Regions from separate parts of the Homo sapiens genome. Here region 1 is linked to region 2. The links come from fine-mapping of genetic effects on gene expression. A gene starts in region 2. The other region holds a variant in brackets. All regions are shown on one strand. Distances are from middle to middle.

Region 1 (16,209 bases), 88 kb before region 2:
TGTAAGAACTGCTTTTGAGTAGCTGCCTCCATTAGCCCTGGGGTTCCTACTTCCTGAGTACCATGACCTCTGGGATAACTCAGCTTTGTGGAACTGAGGTGCAATAGGCAGCATAATGACCCCCTCCCCAAAGATATCTATGTGCTAACTAACCAAGGAATGTGGACAGCCCCCTGAAGCTGGAAAAGGCAAGGAAAGGGATTCTCTTCAAGAGTTTCCAGAAGGAATGCAGCCCTCTTCACCAATTTGGTACTTCTGATCTCCAGAACTCTTAAATAATAAATTTGGCCGCATGTAGTGGCTCACACCTGTAATTCCCAGCACTTTGAGAGGCCAAGGAAGGTGGATTGCTTGAGCTCAGGATTTGGAGACCAGCCTGCACAAAATGGTGAAACCCTGTCTCTACAAAAAATATGAAAATTAACCATGTGTGGTAGTATGTGCCTGTAGTCTCAGCTACCAGGGAGGCTGAGGTGGGAGGATCACCTGAGCCCAGGAGGTTGAGGCTGCAGTGAGTTGTTAGTGTCCCACTGCATTCCAGCCAAGGGGACAGAGTGAGACCCCATCTCAATAATAATAATAATAAATTTATGTTGTTTAAGCCTCTAAATTTGTGGTAATTTGATACAGCAAATTACCACAGAATAGGAAAGTAATACATGGGGGGAATCAAGCTCAGTCTGTAACTGACAAAACTCTGAGAGGTCAGAAAGGTATCCTTTCAGTAACTGTCTTCTCGAACTCCTGACCTCAAGTGATGCACCTACCTCAACCGTGCCCAGCCAGTAACTGTGTTCTTTAACATACTTATACTTTAAAAAAAAAAAACAACTTTTAAGTTGAACACATTTTCACATTGATATTTTTTTCCGTGTGTGTGTGTGCGTGTGTGTGGACTACACTTTTAAGTTTTTAATTATGTTTAGGGTTAAGATTAGGGTTATGGTGGAATATTTTTGACATATAGTGACTTTAAACTTTTATGGGCTGGGCGCAGTGGCTCACGCCTGTAATCCTAACACTTTGGGAGGCCGAGGCGGGCAGATCACCTGAGGTCGGGAGTTCAAGACCAGCCTGACCAACATGGAGAAACCCCCATCTGTAATAAAAATACAAAATTAGCCAGGTGTGGTGGTACATGCCTATAATCCCAGCTACTGGGGAGACTGAGGCAGGAGAATCGCTTGAACCTGGGAGGCAGAGGCTGAGGTGAGTCAAGAGTGAGCCATTGCACTCTCAGCCTGGGCAACAAGAGTGAAACTCGGTCTCAAAAACAAAACAAAACAAAACAAAAATAATACCCCTTTAATGTATTCAGATCTGTTAATCTAATCATTTATGTTTTCTGCTTTTGGTGTTTTGCTTTGAATGGTCTCACCCATGCCAAGAGGATATAAATATTCACATAAATGTTTATGACTTTTGTCTTTTAGAGTATGTACTTCACTGATTTAAAAATAACATCCTAGGCCGGGCACAGTGGCTCACGCCTGTAATCCTAGCACTTTGGGAAGCTGAGGCAGGCGGATCACGAGGTCAGGAGTTTGAGACCAGCCTGACCAACATGGCGAAACCCTGTCTCTACTAAAAATACAAAAATTAGCTGGGTGTGGTGGTGTACGCCTGTAATCCCAGCTACTCAGGAGGCTGAGACAGGAGAATTACTTGGACCCGGGAGGTGGAGGTTGCAGTGAGCCGAGCCAGTCTGGCAGTCTGGGTGACAGAGTGATACTCTGTCTCAAAAAAAAAAATACATAAATAAAATAATATTCCTTGTACAAAACAATGTTTTCTTATTCTAAAACTCTATTTTTTTTTTTTTAAGAGATGGAGTCTTGCTCCATCACCAGGCTGGATTGCAGTGGCATGATCATAGATCATAGCTCACTGCAGCCTCACTCCTGGGCTCAAGCCTTTTGCCACAGCCTTCCAAGCAATTGGAGCTATAGGCACATGCCACCATGCCCAGGTTAAATTTGTTTACTAGTAATATGAGAACTGTTAAAAAAAAAAAAACTTCAGACAAATTAAATTTTTCAGAGTTTTTTGACCAAAGAATGATTCATGAACAGGACAGCACTCAGAACCAGAAGAGATTCAGAGCGTTCCACATTGTGGGCAGAGACTATTCACAGATAGAGAAGGGAAGTGAGATACTGAAACAGCTTGATTGGTTACAGCCAAGTATTTGCCTTATTTGGACATGATTTGCTCAATTAACAGCCTATGATTAGCTGAAGCTTGGCAGCTGTGATGGCTGAGACAGCTATTTGTTACAAGAATATACTCGTAAGCTTTCTATTTGTTTACGTACCAAATTGGATTGTTGTTCAGTATTAAGGGACTCAAGGTACAGCAGCAGCCTTAGGCCAAATTTAATATAGCGGAACTCTTACTTTCTTTTTTTTTTTTTTTTTTTTTTTGAGACGGGGTCTTTCTCTGTCACCCAGGCTAGAGTGCAGCAATCTCGGCTCACTGCAACCTCCACCTTCTGGGTTCAAGCGATTCTCCTGCCTCAGCCTCCCGAGTAACTGGAATTATAGGCGCCTGCCACCGTGCCCAGCTAATTTTTGTATTTTTTTAAGTAGATAAGGGGTTTCACCATCTTGGCCAGGCTGGTCTTGATCTCCTGACCTCGTGATCCACCTGCCTCGGCCTCCCAAAGTGCTGGGATTACAGGCATGAGCCACCTCACCCGGCCCTTACTTTCTTTTTTAATGTATTTGCTTAAATCTGCCTATTTTTGTGTAATTTATTGCGTATAACAAACTACTCCAACATTTAGTAGTTTGAGAATACAACTAGGTTTTATTAGGTTTCATGACTTTGAGGGTTAGGAGTTTGTAGCAAAACTCAGCTGAACATTCTTCTGCTCCAGGCGAAGTTGATTGTGGTATTCAGCTGGTGGCTGGTCTAATTTGTAGGGCCCAAGATAACTGAATTCACATGCCTCTGCCTTGACAGGCTTGGCTGTAAAGACATGCTCCTCTTCCTCTCCCTGTAGTCTCAATGCCTCTCTACGGTAGGGTATTAGACTTCTAACATTGTAACTCAAGCTTCAAGAGGCCAAACTGGAAGCTACAAGTCTTATTAAAGGCTAGAGCCAAAAATAGCATAGTATCACTTCTGTTTACCACGCTTTGTTGGTCAAAGGAATCACAGGCTACCCTGGATTCAAAGATGGGAAGAAAACAGAACCTACTTCATGAGTGTTAAAGAATGTGTGGCCATTTTTAATTTCTATCATACCTACTCTTTAACTTCTTGGTTTTGTTGTTGTTGTGTTTTTGAGACAGAGTCTCGTTCGCTGTGTCACCCGGGCTGGAGTATAGTGTTGCGATCTTGACTCACCGCAACCTCCACGTCCCAGGCTCAAGTGATTCTCCTGCCTAAGCTTCCCCAGTAGCTGGCATTACAGGCATGTGCCACCACACCTGGCTAATTTTTGTATTTTTAGTAGAGATGGGGTTTCACCATGTTGCCCAGGGTGGTCTCGAACTCCTGATCTCAGGTGATCTGCGCCTGCCTCAGCCTCCCAAATTGCTGGGAGTACAGGTGTGAGCCACCGTGCCCAGCCTCTTTAATTTCATTTTAAAATTTATTTTGTTTTGTTTTGTTTGAGACAGGGTCTCACTCAGTCACCCAGGCTGGAGTGCAGTGGCACACTCACAGCTCACTGCAGCCTCAACCTCCTGGGCTCAGGTGGTCCTCTCACCTCAGCCTCCCTAGTAGCTGGGACTACAGGTGCATGCCACCACATCTGGCTAGTTTCTTATATTTTTTGTAGAGAATGGATTTCAACATGTTGCACAGGCTGGTTTTAAACTCCTGGGCTCAAGTGATCCACCTGCCTCAGTCTCCTAAAGGGCTGGGATTACAGGCGCAAGCCACTGTGCCTGGCTGTTTTGCTTTTTAAACTTTGTGAGCTGTGTCGTACATATGAAACTGTGCATAAGACATACACATAATGTAAGTTTAAGGAATTTATAAAGTGAGAAACTATATAATTGGCATCTAGAAATAGAACTTTGCCTGCATCCCAGAAACCCGCACCCAAGTACCTTTCCTCTTAGAAATAACCACTATTCTGACTTCGTGGCATTCTCTTGTTATTCTTAATGGTTTTTAGTGCCTGAATATATCTCTAAATAATATTTGAACGGTCTTTACTACCGGAAAGTTCTTCCTTATGTTAAGATTTAATCCATTGCCCTAAAATTTTTTCATTAGTACTTTCTTTAACCCTTGGGGTTATAAATAACAAATTTAGCATTATTTTTACCCAGAAGAACCACAACTATTTTTTGTATTACATGGTTTCAATTGAATTCCACTATTCTGTTTGTTCCATTTGTATGTCTTTCTGGGAAAATATGATTCCCCAGTACACAACAATGTATTCTATCTCTGATTTACTCTCTAAGCATAGGACTGAAAAATCCCATCTCTCATTCTAGATTCCAGACATCTATTGATGAGGCCAAACATAGTGATGGTTAATGCTAAGCTTATAAGAGACTAAAATATTTTATATAAGACAGTGCCTGGGGCTCAGTTTCGGGCTACTGAAAAAAGAAATGGGAATGGTTTCCTTATAAAAGGATGAGTTTGGTCCTCTTGTCTCTCTCATTCTCTCGTTGCTCTTCCACCATGGGATGTAACACCAAGAAAGCCCTTTCAAGATGCCAGTCCTTTGATCTTGGACTTCCTAGTCTCCAGGACTGTGAGGCATTAAATTTATGTTCTTTATAAATTACTTAGTTTGTGGTGTTCTGTTATAGTAGTGTAAAATGAATTATGGGAACAAATAAAATTTGCATATATTTGAGGTGTGTATATATATATAAATATGTTATATATTATATAAATATATTATACATATTATATAAATATTATATAAATATATTATACATATTATATAAATATATTATACATATATCTATATATATAAATATTATATATATATATATTTTTTGAGACAGGGTTTCCCTCTTGTTGCCCAGGCTAGAGTACAATGGCACAGTCTCGGCTCTTTGCAACCTCCACCTCCTGGGTTCAAGTGATTCTCCTGCCTTAGCCTCCCAAGTAGCTGGGATTACAGATGCCTGCCACCACGCCCGGCTAATTTTTGTATTTTTAGTAGAGACAGGGTTTCAGCATGTTGACCAGGCTGATCTTGAACTCCCAACCTCAGGTTATACACCCACCTTGGCCTCCCAAAGTGCTGGGATTACAGGCGTGAGCCACTGCAGCCGGCCAATTTTTTTTTTTTTTTTTTTTTTTTTTTTTTATTAGACAGGGTGTTACTCTGAAGCTCCTGCTGGAGTGTGGTGGCACAATTATGGCCACCATGCCTTGACCTCCTGGGCTGAAGGGATCCTCCTGCCTCAGCCTCCCATGTAGCTGGGACCATAGGTACATGCCATCACACCTGGCTAATTTTTTTATTTTTTTGTAGAGATTGGTGAGGGGGCCTCACTATGTTGTCCGGGCTGGTCTTCTGGGCTCAGGCCATCTGCCAGCCTTGGCCTCCCAAGGTGTTGGAATTATAGGTGTGAGCAACCCGGCCCAGCCATGTGATGTTTTGATGTATGTATACACTGTGAGATGATTACTACAATCAAGCCAATTAACACATCCATAACCTCACACTTTGTATGTGTGTATTTGATATCCACTTTCTTAGCAAATTTCTGTTTTTTATTTTAATTTAACTTTTATTTTAAGTTCATGGGGTATATGTGCAGGTTTGTTATATAGGTAAATTTGTGTCATGGGGTTTGTTTTACAGGTTATTTCATCACCCAGGTATTAAACCTAGTACCCATTAGTTATTTTTGCTGACCCTCTCCCTCCTCCCATTCTCCACCCTCTGATAAGCGCCAGTGTGTGCTGTTCCCCTCCATGGGTCCATGTGTTCTCATCATTCAGCTCCCATTTATAAGTGAGAACATACGGTATTTGGTTTTCTGTTCCCATGCAAATTTCAAGCATACAATACATTACTATGAACTATAATCAGCATGTTGTACATTAAGTCTCCATAACTTACTCTACTTACAACCGAAAGTTTGTGCATTTTGACCAGTATCTTCCCATTTCCCCTACATCCCAAGTCCTGGAAACCACATTTCTGCTGTCTGTTTCTATGAGAAACTTCTAGATTCCACGTATAAGTGAGATCATGCAGTATTTGTCTTTTTATGTCTGGCTTATTTCACTTAGCATAATGTCCTCCAGGTTCATCCATGTTGTTAAATCCATGCCAGTTGCAAACAGCAAGATTTATTTCTTTTTTGAAAGCTGAATAATATTCCACTGTATGTATGTATGTGTGTGTGTGTGTGTGTGTACATATATATTTGCACTCATTATCCGTTCATCCATTGATGAAAAGTAGATTATCCCTATATCTTGGCTATTGTGAATAATGCTGCAATGAACATGAACATATATCTTCAGGATAGTGATGTTGTTGCTAGATCACATGGTAATTCTATTCTTAATTTTGTGAGGAGCCTTTATACTGTTTTGCACAATGGCTCTACTAATTTACATTCCCATCAACAGCATACAAAAGTTCCCTGTTCTCCACCTTCTCCCCAATGCTTTCATATTTTGGGCCATTCTGTATGGTTTACTGTACCGTATGACAGTAATGCTGTGCAGTATGTGCTATAGCCATTTTTGCATCTACTGGTACCAGTTCTGAAATAGCAGCGGCGCCCTTTCTGTTTAGAGTCGCCTTCTGGTGGTAGGAATTCTGGTTGCTACCATGTGTAGCCTGCAAGCCTCTAGCAGCTCTTTTGCAGCGACGCCGAGCGCCGGGCGCGGTGGCGCGTGCCTGTAGTCCCAGCTACTCGGGAGGCTGAGGCTGGAGGATCCCTTGAGTTCAGGAGTTCTGGGCTGTAGTGCGCTATGCCGATCGGGTGTCCGCACTGAGTTCGGCATCAATATGGTGACCTCCCGGGAGCGGGGGACCACCAGGTTGCCTAAGGAGGGGTGAACCGGCCCAGGTCGGAAACGGAGCAGGTCAAAACTCCCGTGCTGATCAGTAGTGGGATTGCGCCTGTGAATAGCCACTGCACTCCAGCCTGGGCAACATAGTGAGACCCTGCCTCTTTTGAGTTCTCACCTTATAAAGTAGCCTTTCTTCCCATGCATCTATCCTAAGACAAAAGAAATGCAGAATTTACATTCTTACAGGACTATTTTCCTCACTACACTGTGAATCCCCCCTCCCACCCCACCCCCATTGGGAATCTTCTTGTTTTTATTTTTATCTTATTTCACCATTATCTAGCTAAACACTTGCACATTCATGCTGCCAAGTGTTTATGGAGCACCGATTGTACACCAGGTACTGCGGTGAGTCTCAGGGGTACCAAGACCGAGGTTCGATGAGAATCCTGTAATCAATTGCAGAATGCTCCTTCCGAGAGCAGGACCCATCAAAATAGGAACTCCGTTTTGAGAGTTCGCCTCGATCGTTGAGGATAATCTTAGAAGGACCGAAGCAGTTCCGTTTCGTTACATTTCAAAATCTTATGTCAAAGTAAGCGCGCAGAAAGGGGTCCTTGCTCTTCTACACTGAGCCCTACGGCCCCCCTGTGGGGAAATACTCCTGATAATCATCTCGAAAATTGTTTCGACCAGCAGGGGTCACTATGAAGGCTGACTTGAGCCCAAGACACAATGGGGCACGGTAACCAGACTGGTCCGTAAGGGTTCCAGGAAGGAATGCAGTTTCAAGAGAACAGTTTGAATCTTTATTCGAATTTGAATTTTGGTACAATGAAGAGAGTCAGCTGCAACTTGACAATCGAAATCTTCAGAAAAGCGACACAAATACGTTCGCCTCGAGGAATATTGGGTCTTCTGCGCGGCCGTAGAGCTCCGCCAAGTGCGCCTGCGCGGAGGAGAAGTGGCGTCGAGTCCGGCCGGGCAGTAGAGGAAC[T/C]TGCGGTAGTGACCCTCGGGCCTCGCCATGAAGAGCCGCTTTAGCACCATTGACCTCCGCGCCGTACTCGCGGAGCTGAATGCTAGGTACAGTACCCTAAGTGACGAGGCTCGTGTGGGGAGTGCAGGAGGCAGAGGCCGGAGTCCCATGGCGCAAACAGACCAGCTTGATATGTTTCCTTATTTCCTAGTGCGTCTATGGACCTGCCTAGGCCTGAGTGGGCAGGCGTGTGGTGTCTTTCCCGTGACCCTTAGGATACCCCTGGGGGTCCCAGGCACCTCGTGCCCCATCCCCCGCGTCCTCCCAGCTCTCTGGCTTGCCCCGCTAGCGCGAAGCTCTTGCATTGTTGGCCTGGGTTGTCCGGGTTGGGCAGGAAACGTTTGTTAAAACACGAGACGCCAGAGTGGTCGTTTGCTTCAGAGGTTTCCAGACTGGGGGCTTGGTTTCTTGAACACCTCCCTCCCCTCACCCCAGAGAGAGAGAGAGCATCGCGGTTTTAGCTGGATTGAGCAGATTTGGACTGAGATCTGGATTCTAGTCTGGATTCTATTATTCAGCCCTGTGAGCTTTGTCATATTTTCGGGGCCCTCTTTTATCTTTTTTTTTTCTCCCTTGTAATAAATTAATTGGATTATATTTTACTGTATTTCTCCCCCAAAATTGGGTCATTTGGAAGACGCAAGCTATAGTGTGTTGTTCCTAGAGCTGATAGACCACTTCTGTTTTTAAATCGTTACTCTTAAGTTTTGAACTGAATCTCCAAATGGCTTTCAGACTCTGCTCCTCGGCTGACTCCATATCCTTAGAGACTGAGATCCGCTCTTTCGAAGCTTTTATTAAATTATGTGTAGTTTTATGTTTCAGACAATAGTGTAACATGTTACATGTTTCCTTTATCTTTGCAGCTTGCTAGGAATGAGAGTAAACAATGTTTATGATGTGGATAATAAGACATACCTTATTCGTCTTCAAAAGTAAGAACATTTTATAGGCTTATTTTCTCTTTGACAATTAAGTATGAGATTACTGATTTTTTTTAACCTACATTTTAAGCCTGTTTAGCAATTAGCTTTGGCATATACCCTAAAGAAAAATTCGACTTTTTTCTTCTACAGACCGGACTTTAAAGCTACACTTTTACTTGAATCTGGCATACGAATTCATACAACAGAATTTGAGTGGCCTAAGAATATGATGCCGTCTAGTTTTGCCATGAAGGTAAACTTGTTACGCTTGAAGCTAAATTTTAAGAGATTGCTCACTAACAATTAAGTTTTTAATTGGGGTTTCCTTCACTGTTACGAATAAAGTGCAGATAAAATGAAGGTAAAGGGAGTGGTTGACAGATAATGGGTTGAATAAAGTGAATATTTATTAATTGATTTCTCCCCATTACCTTTCACATCCTGTTCTGCTCCAGATCTTCTGTTTCCACAGTCACTATTAGAGTTCAAGCTTTTATCACATTCAGCCTTACAGTTCCTTAACTGTAATTCACTTCTCTGCATCAAAACAATTCTAAATTAGACCAACGTTAATTTTTTTGTTTTTGTTTGTTTGTTTTTTTGTTCGTTTTTGAGAAGGAGTCTCGCTCTGTCACCCAGGCTGGAGTGCAGTGGCACAGTCTTGGCTCACTGCAACCTCTGCCTCCCAGGTTCAAGTGATTCTCTTGCCTCAGCCTCCTCAGTAGCTGGGATTACAGGCGTGTGCCACCAGACCCGGCTAATTTCTCTATTTTTAGTAGAGATGGGGTTTCACCATGTTGGCCAGTCTGATCTCAAATGCGTGACCTCAGGTGATCCGCCAGCCTCAGCCTCCTGAAGTGCTGGGATTACAGGCATGAGCCACCGCGCCTGGCCCAACATTAATTTTTTTAAAGTATAATTTTCATTAGTTACCTCACCTTTTATGGTTTCCTGATTTCTAAATCCATATTCTATAGCCTAACATTCTTGGCTTTCTGTGTTCTTTCTCCTCCCTGCCCCACCTTTTTTTCCTAGTCTTATCTTCCAGAGCTCACTTTTGTGAGTCGTATTCCTCTGTACCCAGTCAGTATTTTTTTTTTTTTGGAATACTCACTGACATTAATATGTTACTAAGTCTTTTTATTTTTCTGTTTTGTTTTTACTATTAAAACAGATTTTTACATGGGTGGGCATGCTACCCATTCTTTTATTGATGTAACATATAGATTGAAAATTCATGTGGTACACGAGACTTTCGAGTCACATATACTTAACTTTGAATTAATAGCTTTGTCAGAAAGTAATTTTATAACCTGGAAAAGTTACTTAACCTCTTGGAATTTAGTTTCTTTAAATGTAAAATGTGGATAGTACCTCCTTCATGAAATTATTGGATTAATTGAAATGATATATAAAACACCTAAAACAGACCAGGTGCGGTGGCTCATGCCTGTAATTCCAACACTTTGGGAGGCTGAGGCAGGTGGATCACTTGAGGTCAGAAGTTCAAGGCCAGCCCAGCCAACATGGTGAAACCCTGTCTCTACTAGCCAGGCGTGGTGGCACACACCTGTAATTCCAGCTACTTGGGAGGATGGGGCAGGAGAACCACTTGAACCTGGGAGATAGAGATTGCAGTCAGCTGAGTTCGCACTGTTTCACTCCAGCCTGGGCGACAGAGCGAGACTCCATCTAAAAAAAAAAGAAAGGCACCTGAAACAATACCTGACACATATTAGAACTCCATACATGTTCATTTCCTTCCTGCTCCGCTCCTTACTTTGGCAATGTATCTGTTATGGCATTGAGTTATTTCATTAGAGGCTTTACAGAGAAGAGCTTTACCCCCCAGCAATTTAGAGTCTGTTTTGGATTACAAATTAGGTAAGTGTTTCCATATCACAAGGGCTTTCACAAAATTCTCAGATTATTAAAGTTTAATTTATTTAATAGTAACCCAAAATAGTTCTTTTGGGGCCTGTCCTTAATAATAATGACAATAATAATGCTACCTGTTGTGTAGCACTTTTTAAGGCAGATGAATAATATGTATTTCATTTAAGTTGTTTAGCAACTCAGTGGACTGTGAAGAACAAATACAATTTCAGTTTTATGGATGAGGTAACAGGCCAATGAAATAGGACACTGGGATTGTGTAAACATCTCCAAATCAGACTACACTAATAGGTCAGTCACTTTAAAAAATACTTAGAATTCTATGGGTTAGGTGTACGTGTCAATCTAAATGTATAGAAAGATTTCCTCAATGGAGCAGACAATGTTAAGCACTTTATAAATCAAAGAGCTGTTACTGTTGCATGGCACAGGCAGAGTTATGTCTATTATGTGATAAATCACAGTGGTTGTTCCAGTATTCACATTTGGGGATGACAGCTATAGCTTTGTGGCACACAGCAGCAGGTTGATTTCACCAAGCTGTTGATAGGGAAATGAAACAAGCTTTAAATATGTACTATGTGTCCATCTGTACTCTCCATGATAAATAATCCCCTTTTTACTATTCCTTTGTGTGAACTTCTGTCCTTTCAATGATGCCTTTTGTCTTTATTTTTCTTGAATAAAATTATTACTCAGGGACTCTGGAAGAACTGATTGTGATTTTCCTCTAGGGATTTAAAGATAGCCCTACATGTAGGTTACTGTTTAATCAAATCAGTATAGGTCATTCTTAAAACTACTGAGTTAAGGAGGAGCAGATTGTTTATCCTAGGAAGTTATTCTGCCTATGTGAGTATATAAAATGCGAATTTCAGTCAATTTGGGCTATAAGGTCTGGAGAAGAACTCTTCTTAGTTATGAAAATGTTAGCATTAATTTTAATAATGAATTTATGTGTTTATTGTTGTTTTTTTTCAACCTTTGTCAAGGAGTGGATTTTTTGTCTTTTTTTTGAAGGTGGTCTTAGATTAACTTCTGTAAAATTTGTTTCGTATTTAAGTCTTTTTTTTTTTTTTTTTTTTTGAGACGGAGTCTTGCTCTGTCACCAGGCTGGAGGGCAGTGGCGCAGTCTTGGCTCACTGCAACTTCAGTCTCCTGGGTTCAAGTGATTCTCGTGTCTCAGCCTCCCAAGTAGCTGGGATTACAGGCACACGCCACCATGCCTGGCTAATTTTTGTATTTTTAGTAGAGATGGGGTTTCACCATGTTGGCCAGGCTGGTCTTGAACTCCTGACGTTGTGATCCGCCTGCCTCGGCCTCCCAGAGTGCTGGGATTACAGGCGTGAGCTGCCATACCCAGACCGTATTTGAGTCTTGAAGAAAGCATTCTTTCTTATTGGTCTTAACTAAAGGGTCTTTTATATTAAAAAATTAGAAACAATTGTAAGATATTTTAGAGGCTACAGAGTAGTCTTGTTACCAGTCCATGTCATACTTCAATATTTGTACAAAAAGACGGTACATGTAATCTAAAAGAGTAGGTATTGCCAAGTAAATTGTATTTGGATTTGATATACTAATATTATTTTAATTGTTAATAAGAAAAAGAACCTTATGGCCAGGGATAGGAGGAAGGGGATTTAATAAAGAATGAGAGTTATTACATTGGATTGAAATAGGTTATCAAAAGCTTAGAGACGATACCAGGAAAATTCTCTTTGGGTTATATTAGTAAAGTTTGTAGGAATAAGCTGGGCACAGTGGCAGGGCACTTGTAATCCTAGCTACTTGGGAGGCTAAGGTGGGAGATTGCTTGAGTCCAGGAGTTTGAGCCTTGCCTGGGCAACAGAGAGACTCTGTCCCTTTCTTTTTTTTTTTTTTTTTTGAGACAGAGTCTTGCTCTGTTGCCCAGGCTGGATTGCAGTAGTGTCATCTCGGCTCACTGTAACCTCCGCCTCTTGGGTTCAAGCGATTCTTTTGCCTCAGCCTCCTGAGTAGCTGGGATTACAGGCATGCGCCAGCACGCCCAGCTAATTTTTGTATTTTTAGTAGAGATGGGGTTTCACCATATTGGCCAGGCTGGTCTTGAACTCCTGACCTCAAGTGATCCACCTACCTCGGCCTCCCAAAGTGTTGGGATTACAGGCCTGAGCCACCGCTCCTGGCAAAGACTCTCTTAAAGAAAAAAAAAAAAAAAAAAAAAAAAAAAAGAATTGGTAGGGGTAACTGGATATAAGGTGGTGGACTATTTACAGGATACCATAAGCCATAAGCTCATGGTCCATAGTTGATATGTATTAGAAGTAGAAGATTAGTGGAAACAATTAATTAATTTTGAACATAAATGAAGCATACAAAAGGGAAATTTGGCATACTTAGAAGTGTCATCAAAGAGACTTAAAAAAAATAAAGGGACTGGGTGTGGTGGCTCACGCCTGTAATCCTAACACTTTGGGAGGCCGAGGTGGGCAGATTGCCTGAGCTCAGGAGTTCGAGACCAGCCTGGGCAACGTGGAGAAACCCCGTCTCTACTAAAATACAAAAAATTAGCCAGGCGTGGTAGTGGGCGCCTGTAGTCCCAGCTACTCTTGGGAGGGTGAGGCAGGAGGATTGCTTGAACCTGGGAGGCAGAAGTTGCAGTGAGCCAAGATTGTGCTACTGTACTCCAGCCTGGGTGACAAAGTGAGACTCCGTCTCCAAATAAATAAATAAATAAATAAATAAGTAAAGGTTGGCTGGGCACAGTGGCTCATGCCTGTAATCCCAGCACTTTGGGAGGCTGAGGTGGGCGGATCACGAGGTCAGAACTTCGAGACCAGCCTGACCAACATGGTGAAACCCCGTCTCTACTAAAAATAGAAAAATTAGCCGGGTGTGGTGGCACACGCCTGTAATTTCAGCTACTCAGGAGGCTGAGGCAGGAGAATCACTTGAACCTGGGAGGCGGAGGTTGCAGTGAGCTGAGACTGTGCCACTGCATTCCAGTCTGGGCGACAGAGCGAGACTCTCTCTCAAAATAAAGTAAATAAATAAAGGTTGTGGCTTATGAGTGAGGTCATTAGGACCACAACAAGGAATTTAGCAGTGGTATAAAGCAACAAAGCAAATTTTGCTATAGGTCCATCATTCTCTACTTAAAAATTGAAAATAAAAGCCTGGCTCAGTAGCTTACGCTTGTAATCCCAGCACTTTGGGAGGCCAAGGCAGGAGGATTGCTTGTGCCCAGGAGTTTGAGATTAGCCTGGGCAACATAGTGAGACCCTGTCTCTACAAATAATGAAAAAATTAGCTGGGGATAGTGGCATGTGCCTGTGGTCCCAATCCTCAGGAGGCTGATGCAGGAGGATCACCTGAGCCAGGGAAGTCGAGGCTGCAGCGAGCCATGATCACACCACTGGGCTCCAGTTTGGGTGACAGAGTGAGACCCTGTCTTAAAAAAATGCAAATAAAACACTGTTTCAGAGTTAGTGTTTATAATAAAATGTTTTCCCTCTGATTATCATCTGCAATCTATTACTTTATGACTATACTGTTATTCACAACGTTTTAAATATTCCTGATGATAATGAAAAGAAGCTTATTTATAAACCAATACCAAATGGTTAGGAATTCACTTTTACTAAATGAATGCCTTTTTCTTTCTCTTGCTAGTGCCGAAAACATTTGAAGAGTCGGAGATTAGTCAGTGCAAAACAGCTTGGTGTGGATAGAATTGTAGATTTTCAATTTGGAAGTGATGAAGCTGCTTACCATTTAATCATTGAGCTCTATGATAGGGTAAGTTAAATTTGTGGGATATGGTGAAGGAAAATTTCTTATTAATCATTTTGTAATAGTGCTATATAACATGAGTGGGGGAACATTTTTTTTCTGTGTCAAAGGTTGTTACTACCCTAGGAAATGGGTGCCACACAAATAAAATAAAATTTTCCAGTAATAACCTTCATTTTATCTGTAGGTCTGAGTTTAGGCAGACTTTAGCCATTTAGAATAGCCTTATGAATGTAGGAGATGAAGATCTGAGAAGTAAATTATTTGGTACTTGACATTTCAGGACTAATATGCAACCAGAAAATAGTCAAATACGGTCATGCACTGATGCGCTGTATGTATAGTGATGTTTCAGTCAACAACAGACTGCATATAAACGTTGGTCCTGTAACATTGTAATGGATCTAATAAATTCTTACTGCTTAGTGACATCTTGATCCTGACTCTGTGTAGGCCTAGGCTGGTGTGTGAGTTTGTGTGTTAGTTTTTAACAAAAACATTAAAAGTAAAAACAAAACAATTTAAAATGGAAAAAAAGCTTAGAGAATATGGATCTAAAGAAAGAAAGTATTGTACAGCTGTACGATATGTGTTTTAAGCTAAGTGTTATTACAAGAGTCAAAAAGCTAAAAAGTTTAAAGTTTATAAAGTAAAAAAGTTCCAGGAAGCAAAGGTTAATTTATTATTGAAGAAAGAAAAACATCTTAAAAATAAATTTGGCTGAGCGCAATGACTCAGGCCGGGCACAGTGGCTCACACCTGTAATCCTAGCATTTTGGGAGGCCGAGGAGGGCGGATCACCTGGGGTCAGATCACCTGGGGTCAGGAGTTCAAGACCAGCCTGGCCAACATGGCAAAACCCCGTCTCTATTAAAAAATACAAAAATTAGCTGGGCGTGGTGGCGGGCACCTATAATCCCAGCTACTCGGGAGGCTGAGGCAGGAGAATCACTTGAACCTGGGAGGCAGAGGTTCCAGTGAGCTCAGATTGTGTCACTGTGCTCCAGCCTGGGCAACGGAGCAAGACTTTGTCTCAAAAATAAACTAACTAACTAACTAACTAACTAACTTAATCTGGGCCAGGTGTGGTGGCTCACACCTGTAATCCCAGCACTTTGGGAGGCCAAGGCGAGTGGATCACCTGAGGTCAGGAGTTTGAGACCAGCCTGCCCAATGTGGCAAAACTGCATCTCTACTAAAAATACAAAAATTAGCCTGGTGTGGTGGTGCGTGCCTGTAGTCCCAGCTACTCGGGAGGCTGAGGCAGGAGAATCACTTGAACCTGGGAGGCAGTGGTTGCAGTGAGCTGAGATCATGCCATTGTACTCCAGCTCAGGTGACAGAGTGAGATTCAGTCTCAAAAAGGAAAAAAAAAATATATGTGTGTGTGTGTGTGTGTGTGTGTGTGCGCGCGCGTGCGCGTGCGTGTGTATGTATATAAATAAATAAATACATAAATTTAATCTGGTCTGAGGTAAGCATAATTTTTTTAAAAATTAAAAAATAAAAAACAAATTTAGTGTAGCCCAAGTGTGCAGTATTTATCAAGTCTACAGTAGTATGCAGTAATGTCCCAGGCCTTCACATTTACTCACTGTCACTCACCCAGAGCAGTTT
Region 2 (14,772 bases):
CTAAATTAAGCTTAGCAGCTAAGCTAAAGTAGCAGAACAGTGTTTTTAGAATATATAAGTAGCTTAGAAAGTGTTTTACATTTTTTTCTTTGCAGCCATATCTGATTTGTTTGTTTTTGGAGACAGTTTTGCTCTGTCACCCAGACTGGAGTGCAGTGGCTCGATCTCAGCTCACTGCAACCTCCGCCTCCCAGATTCAAGCGATTCTCCCACCTCGGACTCCCAAGTAGCTGGAATTAGCACGCCACCATGCCTGGCTAATTTTTGTATTTTTAATAGAGATGGGGTTTCACCCCAGCCTGGTGTTGAACTCTTGACCTCGAGAGATCCGCCCGCGTTGGCCTCCCAAAGTGCTGGGATTATAGGCATGAGCCAGCCACCGTGCCCAGCCCTTATCTGAATTTTTTAGTCCCCCTTATAATATCCACATTTACCATCTTCCAGTCTCCATGTTGTAGATCCATAGTTCTTCTCTAGGCAGATAAAAGTCATATAATCCTCTGACTTGATTACTCTAAGAATAAAAAAAATTGTAAATATAAAAACTGGTATTTTAAAGAGGCACTACTGTATTTTTTAAATCGATCTTGAGATACTAATTTCATAATTAGTATGAAAAATAGGTATTACAGTGCACAATCCTCCCCCACCCATGCCACACACTCAAGGTAAAGCTCAACATAGATAGCTCTTAATTCAGAATTTTGATACAGCAGTTGCAATAGGACAAGAAGAGATCTCTGGGAACTTTTTTTTTTTTAGTCCAAGTCTCTATTGCTCAGGATGGAGTGCAGTGGCGCAATCTTGGCTGGCTCACTGCAATGTCCACCTCCTGGGTTCAAGTGATTCTCCTGCCTCAGCCTCCTAAGTAGCTGGGACTGCACGCACTCGCCATCACGCCTGGCTAATTTTTGTATTTTTAGTAGAGACAGGGTTTCACCATGTTGGCCAGGCTGGTCTCAAACTCCCAACCTCAAGCAATCCACCCACCTCAGCCTCCCAAAGTGCTGGGATTACAGGCTGTGAGCCATTGTGCCCAGCCAAGAGATCTCTGGGAACTCTCTAAGGCAGCTTTATCCTGAACAGAACCATGCACCAAATTTCAGCTGCATGACTTCAGGAGACTGCCTGTGCCATGGTCAGCAGGCTGTTACTGAAAGTGCCTGATCCACGCTAACACGATGCGTGGTTTTCTAGCCATGCCTTCCTTTCACCTATCCATTCTCTAAGCAGCAATAGAGAGGGCAGAACTGCAAATATGCAAAATATTAAATCCTTATGCAGAATTTTAAGTTCTTTGTTCTGCTCCATTTCCCTTCAGGTATTAATTCCTAACACAGACTGAGCCTACCATATGCCACAGCTGAAAGCTATCCATGGATTGCTTTATTTAATCCTCACAACAACCCTAAAAAGTAGCTGATGTTATGAGAAAACAAGTTTAGAGTTTAAGTAATTTGCCCAAGGTTATTTATGAAGTAATGATGGAGCCAGGATTCTATCCTTTCCCTGAACTTTAACAACTGCCTGACATTCCCAGCCTTTGACCCTCCCTAGCCACTTTCTGAACAATGTTGACACAGTAAACGACTGCGGTTAGCCAAAAATGGGTGTCAAAGTCCAGCAAGCTTGAATATTAAACATACAGAAACAGAACAGTTGACCACGTAAAACAACTTCTTTTTCCACCCCACCAGTGATGAAGGGAAAGGCTGGAAGCGGGCTGACCCACAGGGGACCAGCCTGTCCTGGGGAGGAAAACTGCCTACTATGTAGGAAGCCAAGGTTTATTGCCTTTGAAACAATCTCCAAGGACTTCTGTGCCTACCCTCAGGGTTCCAGCCACCAGCCATAAATGGGGAGGGCAGTCTGTTTCAGAACCATCCAATTCAGTGATTGTGCTGCTCCTCCCTGAATCGGCCCCAATCATCCAGGCCCTTTTAAATCCACAAGAAATATTCCACACTAAGAATCCTCCCCTGCCCCACTCCCAAAGTCTTATTCTCTCATGCTGTCATTTTAAAAATACAATTATGAATTAGGTAGCTTAGAAGTGTCATTGACAGGTTTCTCCAGGGGAATTAATTTACATTTTTATAAGGGTGACTACATGCTTGCCCCCCCGCCCCCCTTCTTGCAATTCTCTACCCCTTTCTAAAGTATTTTTGAGACAGTTTCCTTCTTGTTGCCCAGGCTGGAGTGCAATGGCGCCGTCTCAGCTCACTGCAAACTCCGCCTCCCTGGTTCAAGTGATTCTCCTGCCTTAGCCTCTCAAGTAGACGGGATTAGGGCGCCCGTCACCACGCCAGGCTAATTTTTTTTTTTGTATTTTTAGTAGAGACGGAGTTTCACTATGTTGGCCAGGCTGGTCTCGAGCTCCTGACTTCAGCTGATCCACCTACCTTGGCCTCCCAAAGTGCTAGGATTACAGGCGTGAGCCACCGCGCCCGGCCCCCTTTCTATTTTCTAACCACATTCATTGGAAACTGGGGAAAACACTGCAGATTCATTAGGATTGGCAAAAAATTACTTTTGCAGTTAAACCAAAATAAAGTATCAGGACAGCCATCTTTGAAAGCTATCTCAAAAATGGTCAACTATGATCAAGTCAGCTGTACCATAAGCTAAAAACAATCACAAAGCAAGTCATCCAAGGCACGGGCGTGGGGAGGGCGGAGAACATTTTCAAGACCAAAGAGGAATTTTGTGGTAGGACTGGCTCAGAGCCATCCTAGCAAATAAAATTCTAGATTTCCGAGGTTAGCAGGGTAAAGAATGGCAACTGGCTTTAAACTGCTAACTAATCACGTTGTTTATAACCAGGGGATCGGAGAGTCAAAGAGCTGCACTCTGTAGTTCATTTGATGCTGGGGATTTTTTGGTTACTGGTGGAGCTTTTCCATTATCTTAATAGGGGTGTCTGCTGAAAAACTTCAACCCAGCTGAAGCCAGAAGGAAAACAGTCCTGATGGCCATTTGCACAGGCGGGAAGGCTGAATAAGGTGGTTCCTGTAACCTTTTGGAATTCCAGTTTTCCTACACCTCGGCCTCCCTGTAAGTGGGCAGCGGTTCCCAGCTCCAGAGGGTGAAGTCCTCGTAGGCCGTCCTCATAACGCGTCTGAGTGATATCACACACCGTCACCTTTCACACCCCAACCCTTCCGAATGCACCGCCCAAGCAACATTAACAGGGCCTTCCCCGGAATAACGCTCCAATGGCAACAACGGGGGTGGGAGTGAGTTGGCTTTGTGAGCACCAGGGTGACATGACAGCAGCCCTGGAGGTTCGAGACGGGTTGGGGTACTCGAGAGAAGGAAGATTCCCGCGCGCAAAAAAAAAACAACCAACGGGCAGAGTCTGAGGTGGGGCGCGCGACGCAGGCGGGGAGCGCCCTCGGCGGCCCGCTCTGGCCTCCCCGCCTGGCCGCGAACGCAGACCCGAGTCACAGCCGAGCGACGTCCGTCGCGGCCCGGCCACTCACTGACCTTGTAGCCGCCCCAGACGAACATGTGGCGCCCGTCGCTGACGGCTACGTGGCCGCTGCGCTCAGCGGGGCAGGCAAGCTCCATGGACTCATAGCTCTCGAAGGCTGGCCCAGGCAAGTCGTCAGCCCGCAGATCCTCGTTGCCATCAGCCATCTTGAGGCTGCACTTTTGCTAACCAACAATGCCCACACCCGCGAGGGGCCAAAAAAACAAAGGAAAAGGAGAGAAATGCACAGCGGCGCGAGGCAAGGAAAAGGCGGTGGCGAAAGGGACGGCGTTGAGGCCTCTCTGCCGCCTGCGCTCGCGTTTCCCAGCCTCCTCGGCCGAGGACGGCTCTCCGCCGCCGCCGGGGCACGCCTGCAGACAGAGGGGCCGCGAGCGGAGCCGGGCGGCGGCGGCGCGGGCCCGGGACTCGGGGCACTGCAGGGAAGCGGTCCGCGTCGGGCCGGCTCCCTATTGCAGCCCGTCTGCCCCGCCTCCTGCAGTCCACGGCCTTGTTTACGCCGCGGCCGGAAGCCGCCCGTTCCGCTGACGCCGCCCGCCGAGCTCCGGAAGCGAGGCTGCCGCTCAGCGCCCCCAGCGCCGGGTCCTCCAGCCGCCGCCGCCGCCGCCGCCGCCTCTGCCCGCGCCTCCGCCTACGGCCTGGGCACCGCAGATCTATGGGGCCCGGCGACTTCTAGTCGCGCTTCGAGTCTCCTTTCACTGAGGGAACCACAGGGATAATGTCCTGAATCGGTCCCTGAAAGCTGCTGAATTTTAGCCGGATTGCCGCAATTTTTTTTTTCTTCCCGAGGATTTCTATTCGTTTGATTGAGGGATGATCTCAGAGGGTTCACAGCCCGGGCAGGGGCACCAGAATTGCTCCACTAGCAAGTTTCTGGTCTCGCCTTAGAGTCGATGCAGGCCCTGCTGTTCTGCGGGCGCGAGGGCAGTCGCTTAGCTCTCACGTGGGGCCCAGCCCGATCCCCGGGGGCCTCTCCTGAGCTCCTGCCGCCCCTGCCGGGCGCCGCCTCTGCGGGAATCTGACGTTGCCGCCGCCGCCGCTGCCGCCGCCAGCCGGGCTGCAGAGTTGGCTTGAAAAGCGTTTCCGAAGCCGTAACCACCCTTTTCTTCAGAAAGAAAGGCGGATCCTTTTCACGCACACACAGCTTTCTCTTATATGATACCTTTCAATTGGGCCAAAAGAAAATTACGAGTTACTGTGCTTGATACCTCACCTGTAAAATAGGGTGGGACAAAAATAATCTTAAATTCTTGATCTTACAGTGCCTGTAGAATTTATCGTGTTTGGTAGGAGGGACGTGCTTCATTATCTCCATTTCCCTCATCTTCTGGTTGGGAGCACTCCATAGAAAAGGAACACTTTGAACAATAAAAGGCTTTTTTTTTTTAATTATTAAAATGCTTATAGCCTGCCACTCCTCCCCTAGTGTGCCAGTGTGTTTACTTGAACTCAAGAACTTGAAAGTTACTTAAGAGGATTAATTAAAGCCTTCAACAAGGAAGCAAATCACCTTGAGGCTGTTAAGACCTTATCTGCCATCCACCCTGGTTGGTGCCCTCAAATCTGTCTGGTTCACAGAATTCCTTGCAGCAGTGTCTTCTCCCAGTCGAATTATGCTCACTAGACTTTGGGGTTATCGAAGTTCCTTGTGAACCAACCTCGTGAATCTGATCGAGTCACTTAAAAACCTTGAGCTGGCTCCCGTCGTCCTTAGTAGAATCCAAAATTAATATCTCGGCTGGGCGCGGTGGCTCACGCCTGTAATCCCAACACTTTGGAAGGCCGAGGCAGGCGGATCACCTGAGGCCAGGAGTTCGAGACCAGCCTGGCCAAAATGGCGAAACTCTGTCTCTACTGAAAATACAAAAAAATTACACAGGCTTGGTGGCCGGCGCCTGTAATCCCAGCTACTTGGGAGGCTCAGGCAGGAGAAACTCTTGAAGCCGGGAGGCGGAGGTTACAGTGAGCCAAAAGGGCACCATTGCACTCCAGCCTGGGCAACAAGAACGAAACTCCGTCTCAAAAAAAAAAAAAAAAAAAAAAAAAAATTCATATCACAGTGCTGTGCAAGAAGACCCAGCATGGTCCAGACCCAGCTTGCCTTTCCAGCTTCAATTCCTGGCTGTGTCCTCCTTCCAGCTACATTACCCTTCTATCATCGTTTTTGTTTTTTGTTTGTTCGAGAGAAGTCTCGCTCTTGTCCCCCAGGCTTGAGTGCACTGGCTCGATCTCGGCTCACTGCAACCTCCGCCTCCCGAGTCCAAACGATTCTCCTGCCTCTGCCTCCCAAGTAGCTGGGACTAAGGCACCTGCCACCACGCCCGGCTGATTTTTGTATTTTTTAGTAGAGATGGGATTTCACCATGTTGGCCAGGCTGGTCTCGAACTCCTGACCTCAGGTGATCCACCCGCCTCGGCCTCTCAAAGTGCTGGGATCACAGGCGTGAGGCACCGCACCCACCCAGCCTATATTTCGTATATATATGCCATTTAATAAAATACTATAATATCCACTTTGATTTACTTATTTATGTTTCAAACCATACTTTTATCCTACTTAGAGCAGTAACAACAAAAAGAGTCTCTGAAACACATTAATTAGTTGTACTATAAGCAGAGTTTCTCAGTGTATCAAAGTATAGTTCCAAGCCCCGTGGGTACCTGGAGACCTTTTCAGGGGCTCCTTAAGGAACTCTCTTTTCTAACTATGTATCTGTGTGAGGCCAGATTTTCTTCACTTAAGTCGGCCTGGCGCAGTGTCTCATGCCTATAATCCCAGTATTTTGGGAGGCTGAGGTGGGCGGATCACTTGAGGTCAGGAGTTCGAGACCAGCCTGATCGACATGGTGAAACCCCGTCTCTACTAAAAAAATAGAAAAATTAGCCAGGCATGGTGGTGGGCGCCTGTAATTCCAGCTACTTGGGAGGTGGAAGCAGAAGAATTGCTTGAATCTGGGAGGTGGAAGATGCAGTGAGCCGAGATCATGCCACTGCACTCCAGCCTGGGTGAGAAAGCAAGACTCTGTCTCAAAAATAAAAATAAAAATGCAAAACAATATCATTCTTTTTGAAATTCTTTTGATTAGGAAAATAAAGTTATTTTTCATTTAAAATGTTATTTATGTTAACAATTTTGTTGTTATTTTGTAATAAATTAAAAAATTTAAACATTAAACTAAATTAAAATTAGTGTTAATTTCTAATATGGCAGATATCTATAGATAAAATCCTCATAAACAAAAGCTCTTGGAGGAACTCAATAATTCTTAAGAGTGTAAAGGGGTCCTAAACTAAACAGTTCTCAAGCTAACAGCCATCTCTGATCATGGCTGGCATACAATCAGCAACTTAATTTTAAAAAGCAAAAGCACATTGTGGCCAGGCGCGGTGGCTCACGCCTGTAATCCCAGCACTTTAGGAGGTGAGGCGGGCAGATCAAGAGGTCAGGAGATTGATACCATCCTGGCCAACATGGTGAAACCCTATCTCTATTTAAAATACAAAAAATTAGCTGGGCGTGGTGGCCTGCACCTGTAGTCCCAGCTACTCCGGAGGCTGAGACAGGAGAATCGCTTGAACCTGGGAGGCTGAGGTTGCCGTGAGCTGAGCTCATACCACTGCACTCTAGCTAGCAATACAGTGAGACTCCATCTCAAAAAAAAAAAAGCAAAAGCATATTGTTTTCAGAATCACTTTCTTTTGAGGAAAATTTTCTAATTTTGACCTAAATGGGATAGAATCAAAAAAATTTCAAGGCCTTTGACAACTTTAGAGTACATTACTTATCCTACTTTGTATGTGTATCTATATTGATACTCAGACATTTTCACTTCCTTCATTTTAATATCCCTCAATTATCTTAACAAAAACAACAAAGGACCTCCAACCTTTTAATCACTGCCTATAAATTGTACATCTTATCAAATAAAAATAGAAGAGACAATTGAAGTTAGTTTAAGAATAAAAGTCTCTTTGTAAAGATAATAAAATTCTTAAAAATCCACTATAGGTCATTTGAAATTCAATGATTGATAATGCTATCATTATAATCATAATCCAGAATGTGTGCAAAAAAATCTTTTGCTGAAAAAAATACTCTTGTAAGACTTCCAATTTCTTTTTTTTCTTCCTTTTGATGTGGGGTCTCACTGTGTTACCCAGGTTGGAATACAGTGGCGTGATCTCGGCTCACTGCAACCTCCACCTCCCAGGCTCAAACGATCCTCTCGCCTCAGCCTCCCAAGTAGGTGGGACTACAGGCGTGTGCCACCACACCGGCTAACTTTTCTGTATTTTTGGTAGAGATGGGGGATTTCACCATGTTGTCCAGGCTGGTCTCGAACTCTTGAACTCAAGTGATCCACCACCTCGGCCTCCCAAAGTGCTGGGATTACAGGCATGAACCACTGTGCCCTGCCCAAGACTTCCAGTTTTTAGTCTGGCATGTAAACAGCTTAGAAGCTGCCACTCCATCCTAACAACAAACAAAAAGCTGAGCAAACTGAAAAATCAACAACTGTTCTTAGATCAATCAGAGAAGTGAGGTCACAGTGCAAACCACTGCCTGTCAAACTGCAGAGACAGATGGGTGAATACAGAGAATCACAATTTACCAAAGCAGAAACCCATGAGCAAAAACCTTCTGAGCTACCAGTTTGGGAGCATAAAAACTTTACAGTAATTGATGACTTGTTGGAGGCTCAGTGTGAACACGTTTTAGACTTAAAAACTCCAGGGGGCTGGGTGTGGTGGCTCATGCCTGTAATCCCAGCAATTTAGGAGGCCTAGGTGGGCAGATCACTTGAGGTCAGGCGTTCGGGATCAGCCTGATCAACATAGTGAAATCCCATCTCTATTAAAAATATAAAAAATAGCCGGGTTTGGTGACACTTGCCTGTAGTCCCAGCTACTAGGGAGGGTGAGACACAGGAATTGCTTATATCCAGGAAGCTGCAGTGAGCTGAGATCATATGACTGCACTCCAGCCTGGGCAACAGAGTAAGACCCTGTATCAAAAAAACAAACAAATAAACAAAACCACAACTCCGGGGGACCCAGTCATAGGACGATCCTCACACTTTTTTGAGTTTACCTCCAGGAGGTCTCTTAGGTTCTTACAGTAAATATCAGAGAAAAATTATCTCATGCTTCCAGCAAGGGTAAGGAAAAAGGAACCATTTTGAAATATGCTAGTTCTTCTTAACAAGGGCTGCCTCAGGAGAAACTATTTTATCAAAGCCTACTCTACCTGGCAAAAGGAAAATACCTAATTCCAGCCGCCTCTAGCCATTCTGTTCCACCTAAGTGGGGGAAAAACTGAGAACTGGGGTGAAGTTGATAGTCCAGGGGCACAGGCTCCTAAAAAGACAGATGATTATAGGACTACAGAATGCTTTCCCTCCCCACACTTCTTACTACCACACCACAGAAGGCCTATTTACCAGAGTTTCTTTCACCCAGCTCATCATGTTTAGGTTTCAACAAAAAATTGCAAGGCATAATAAAAGTCAAAACATCGTGGGCTGGGTGTGGAGGCTCATGCCTGAAATCTCAGCACTTTGGGAGGCCGAGACGGGTGGATCACCTAAGGTCAGGAGTTTGAGACCAGCCTGGCCAACATGGCAAAACCCTGTCTCTACTAAAAATACAAAAATTAGCCGGGTGTGGTGGCACATGCCAGTAATCCCAGCTATTCCAGAGGCTGAGGCAGGAAAATCACTCGAATTTGGGAGGCAGAGGTTGCAGTGAGCCAAGATCGCACCACTGCACTCCAGCCTGGGCAACAGAGTGAGACTCTCTCAAAAAAAACAATGACAACAAAAAACACAGTGTGAAGAAATGAGCAAGCATCTGAAGCAGACTCGGATAAGACAGGAATGTTGAAGTTATCAGACTAGGAATTTAAAACAACTATGATTAATATGCTAAAGCCTCTAATGGAAAAAGTAGTCAAATGCAAGAACAGATGGGTAATGGCCAGGCACAGTGGCTCACCCCTATAATCCCAGCAATTTAGGAGGCCTAGGCAGGCAGATCGCTTGAGCCCAAGAGTTCAAGACTAGCCTGGGCAACAGGGCAAAACACTGTTATCTACAAAAAATACAAAAATTAGCCGGCCATAGTGGCATGCGCCTGTGGAACCAGCCAGCTACTCAGGAGGCTGAGGTGGGAGGATTGCTTAAGTCAGATGGGTAAGGTAAATAGAGAAGATATGGAAATTCTCAGAAAGAACCAAACAGAAATGCTAGAGATCAAATAAACTGTAACGAAGATGAAGAATGCCTTTGATGAACTAACTAGTAGGCTGGACATAGCTGAGGAAAGAATCTCTGAGTTTGAGGGTATGTCAATAAAACTTCCAAAACTGAAACGCAAAGAGAAAAAAGACCAAAAAGAAAAAAAAAGGCACCTCAGACTCCCCTAGAATATCCAATAACTGTGGCACAATCACAAAAGGTGTAACCTAAGTGTAATGGGTTAGAAAGAGAGAAAGGTCCACTGTGAAGAGAAGGACAAAAGCCTGGCTGACCATGCCACCTGGGTCCTAGGGCCTTCAGGAAACCTATACAGTAGCCACGTGGGGGTTACAGTAGGCCTTGGGTGACATCCAGTGCTGTGCTGGCTCCATGTCTGACCCAGCACAGTCCCTGTGGTGGTGGCCACAGGAGTACTTGCATCACCATACCCCCAGTTCCAGGTAGCTCAGAACGGAGAGACTCAATTTGTTTGGAGAAAGTAAGGGAAGAGAACAAGAGTCTCTATCTGTTAATCCAAAGAATTCTTGCAGATCTTATCCAAGACAACCAAGGTGGCACCTCTATTAGTCTGCTAGAACCACAGTTCACAGGGCACGGAATCCCCCCCAATGCAGATAACAGTTTAGATCACAACACCCACATCCTTTTGAATAGCTGCAAAGCCTTTCCAAGGAGGACAGATACGAACAAGCCCAGACTGTGAAGACTACAATAAATGCCTAACTCTTCAATGCCCAGACACTGATGAACATCCACAAGTATCAAGACCATCAAGGAAAACGTGACCACACCAAATGAACTTAATAAGGCACCAGGGACCAATCCTGAAGACACAGAGATATGTGAACTATCAGATAGACAATTCAAAATAGCTGTTTTGAGGAAACTCAACGAAATTCAAGAAATTCAGGATAATGCAGAAGAGGAATTTAGAATAATATTAGATAAATTTAACAAAGAAATGGAAATAATTAAAAAGAATCAGGCGGAAATTCCGGAGCTCGAAAATGCAACTGACATACTGAAGAATGCATCAGTCTCTTAATAGCAGAATTGATCAAGCAGAAGAAATAAATGGTGAGCTTGAAGACAGGCTATTTGAAAATACACAGAGGAAACAGAAGAATAAATTTTTTTTTTTTTTTTTTGAGAGACGAGAGTCTCGCTCCGTCACCCAGGCTAGAGTGCAGTGGCGTAATCTCGGCTCACTGCAACCTTCACCTCCGGGGTTCAACCATTGTGGAAGACAAGTATGGCGATTCCTCAAGGATCTAGAACCAGAAATACCATTTGACCCAGCAATCCCATTACTGGGTATCTACCCAAAGGATTATAAATCATTCTACTATAAAGACACATGCACACATTTATTGCGGCACTATTCACAATAGCAAAGACTTGGAACCAACCCAAATGCCCATCAATGATAGACTGGATAAAGAAAATGTGGCACATATACACCATGGAATACTATGCAGCCATAAAAAAGGATGAGTTCACGTCCTTTGCAGGGACATGGATGAAACTGGAAACCATCATTCTCAGCAAACTAACACAAGAACAGAAAACCAAACACCATCATGTTCTCACTCATAAGTGGTAGTTCAACAGTGAGAACACATGGACACAGGGAATCACACACCAGGGCCTGTTGGGGGGTGGGGGGCTAGGGGAGGGATAGCATTAGGAGAAATACCTAATGTAGATGACGGGTTGATGGGTGCAGCAAACCACCATGGCACGTGTATACCTATGTAACAAACCTGCACGTTCTGCACATGTACCCCAGAACTTAAAGTATAATAAAACAAAATTAAATTCTGAAGGAAAAAAAACTTTTGCCCTAGAATAGTATGTCCAGTGAAAATATCCATCAAACATGAAGGAGAAATAAAGACTTTTCTAGACAAACATGAGCTGAGGGATTTCATCAGTACCAGACCTGTCCTATAAGAAATGCTAAAGGGAGTATTTCAATCAGAAAGAAAAGGATGTCAGTGAGCAGTAAGAAATCATCTGAAAGTACTAAACTCACTGGTAATAGTAAATACACAGAAAAACACAGACTATTATAACACTGTAACTGTGGTGTGCAAACTACTCTTAAGTAGAAAGACTAAAAATGAACTAGTCAAAAATAACTACAACAAATTTTCAAGACATATATAGGACAATAATAAATAGAAATGACAAAAAATTAAAAAGCTGGGGAATTAAGTTAAAATGTAGAGGTTTTATTAGTTTACTTTTTGCTTGTTAGTTTGTTTATGCAAGCAGTGTTAAGTAGCTATCAGCTTAAAATAATAGGTTTTAAGATAGTATCTGCAAGCCTCATGGTAACCTCAAATCAAAAAAACATATAATGGAAACACAAAAAATAAAAAGCAAGAAATTCAATCATACCACCAGAGAAAATCATCTTTACTAAAAGGAAGACAAGAAGGAAAGGAGGAAGAGAAAACCACAAAAGAACCAGAAAACAAATAACAATATGGCAGGAGTAAGTCCTTACTTATCAATAATAATATTGAGTGTAAATAGACTAAAGTCTCCAATCAAAAGACATGTTGTGGCTGAATGAATTAAAAAAAAAAACCAAGACTCAATGATCTGTTGCCTGGAAGAAATGCACTTCACCTATAAAGACACACAGTCTGAAAATAAAGGGATGGAAAAAGATGTTCCATGCCAATGGAAACAAACAAACAAAAGAGCAGGAGAAGCTATACTTATTCAGACAAAATAAATTTCAAGACAAAAACTGTAAGAAGAGACAAAGTCATTACATAATAATAAAAGGGTCAATTCAGCAAGAGGATATAACAATTTTATTTTATTTTTTTGAGATGGAGTCTTGCTCTGTCGCCAGGCTGGAGTGCAGTGGCACCATCTCGGCTCACTGCAACCTCTGCCTCCCAGGTTCAAGTGATTCTCCTGCCTCAGCCTTCTAAGTAGCTGGGACTACAGGCGTGTGCCACCACACCCAGCTAATTTTTGTATTTTTAGTAGAGACAGGGTTTCACCATGTTGGCCAGGATGGTCTCAAACTCCTGACCTCAGGTGATCCACCTGCCTCAGCCTCCCAAAGTGCTGGGATTACAGGCATGAGCCACCGCACCTGGCCAACAATTTTAAATATCTATGCACTCAACACTGGAGCACCCAGATGTTTAAGGCAAATATTAGTAGAGCTAAAGAGAGAGATAGACCCCCAATACAAAAATAGCTGGAGACTTTAACACCCCAATTCTCTACAATCTCTTTCAGAAGATTAGAGGCAGAGAAAATACTTCTTCCTTTTTTTTTTTGAGATGTAGTTTCACTCTTGTCTCCCAGGCTGGAGCGCAATGATGTGATCCTGGCTCACTGCAACCTCCGCCTTCTGGGTTCAAGCAATTCTCGTGCTTCAGCCTCCTGAGTAGCTGGGATTACAGGCGCCTGCCACCACACCTGGCTAATTTTTTGTATTTTTTGTGGAGACGGGGCTTCACTATGTTGGCCAGGCTGGTCTCGAACTCCTGACCTCAAGTGATCCACCCACCTCAGCCTCCCTAAGTGCTGGGATTACAGGTGTGAGCCACTGTGCCCAGCCTGAGAAAATATATCTTAACTAATTATATGAGGCCAGCATTACCCTAATATCAAAGCCAGGCAAAGACAGGGTAAAAAAAACTACAGACTAATACCCCTCATAAATATAGATGCAAAAATTCTCAACAAAATACAAACAGTCCCTAACTTACTATGGTTCTACTTAAGGATTTTTTGACTTTATGATGATATGAATGTAATAACCATTAAGTAGAAACTGTACCTCAAATTTTGATTTTTGATCTTTTCCTGGGCTAGTTATATGCAATATCATACTCGCTTATGCTGGGCAGCTGTGACAAGCTGCAGCTCCCAATCAGCCATGCAATCATGAGGGTAAACAACCAATACTGTACTATACTGTATTCAACGATTTATTATAAAATAGGCTTTGTCTTAGATTATTTTGCCCAACAATAGGCTAATATATGTATTCTGAGCATTTTTTTTTTTTTTTTTGAGACGGAGTCTTGCTCTGTCACCAGGCTGGAGTGCAGTGGCCCAATCTTGGCTCAGTGCAACCTCCATCTCCCGGGTTCAAGCGATTGCCCTGCCTCAGCCTCCCGAGTAGCTGGGACTACAGGAGCAGGCCACCACACCTGGCTAATTTTTTTTTTTTTTTTTTTTTTTTTTTTGAGACGGAGTCTCGCTCTGTAGCCCAGGCTGGAGTACAATGGCACGATCTCAGCTCACTGCAAGCTCCGCCTCCCGGGTTCACGCCATTCTCCTGCCTCAGCCTCCCGAGTAGCTGGGACTACAGGCACCCACCACCACGCCCAGCTAATTTTTTTGTATTTTTAGTAGAGATGGGGTTTCACCGTGTTATCCAGGATGGTCTCGATCTCCTGACCTCGTGATCCACCCGCCTCGGCCTCCCAAAGTGCTGGGATTACAGGCGTGAGACACCGCGCCCGGTGCCACACCTGGCTAATTTTTTGCATTTTAATAGAGACAGGTTTTCACCATGTTGGCCAGGATGGTCTCGATGTCTTGACTTTATGATCTGCCCACCTTGGCCTCCCAAAGTGCTGGGATTACAGATATGATCCATCATGCCTGGCCAGTATTCTGAGCCTGTTTAAGGTAGGCTAGGCTATGATGTTTGGTAGGTTAGGTGTACTATGCATTTTTTGATTTATATTTTCAATTTACAATGGGCTTATTGGGACTTAACACCAACAAAAGTTGTGGAACATCTGTATTAGCAAATCCTGTGCAAAAAGAATTATATACCACAATTGAGTAGGATTTATCCCAGATATGCAAGGCTGGTTTAACATTTGAAAATCAATTAACGGCCAGGTGCGGTGGCTCATGCCTGTAATCCTAGCACTTTGGGAGGCCAAGGTGGGCAGACCACTTGAGGTCAGAAGTTCGAGACCAGCCTGGCCAACGTAGTGAACTCCTGTCTCTATTAAAAAGTACAAAAATTAG

Which allele goes with the higher level. Positions count from the first base shown, and alleles are read on the strand shown. Sizes are in standard deviations (SD) of each study's normalised expression.
With allele T in place of C in region 1, the expression in NK cells of the gene that starts at base 3,955 in region 2 is higher (large effect, 1.9 SD a copy in Gilchrist 2021).

Evidence for each region.
Region 1: its variant is fine-mapped to the expression of KLHDC2 in NK cells (Gilchrist 2021, PIP 0.95).

Annotation. Positions count from the first base shown.
Region 1 is chr14:49,844,529-49,860,737 of GRCh38, reverse strand. It overlaps NEMF (nuclear export mediator factor), which reads left to right and starts at 7,950. Exons shown (of 33, transcript NM_004713.6): 1 at 7,950-8,043; 2 at 8,863-8,931; 3 at 9,073-9,175; 4 at 14,473-14,598. The coding sequence starts at 7,985. LOC105378179 (a long non-coding RNA gene) reads left to right here. Exons shown (of 3, transcript XR_943839.3): 3 at 1-844. It also overlaps RN7SL3. RefSeq lists a silencer at 6,841-6,900 and an enhancer at 7,704-7,943. The variant T/C (reference allele first, on the strand shown) is at 7,958.
Region 2 is chr14:49,757,336-49,772,107 of GRCh38, reverse strand. KLHDC2 (kelch domain containing 2) reads right to left here and starts at 3,955. Exons shown (of 13, transcript NM_014315.3): 1 at 3,487-3,955; 2 at 435-514. The coding sequence starts at 3,639. RefSeq lists silencers at 3,726-3,905, 4,076-4,155, 4,496-4,555.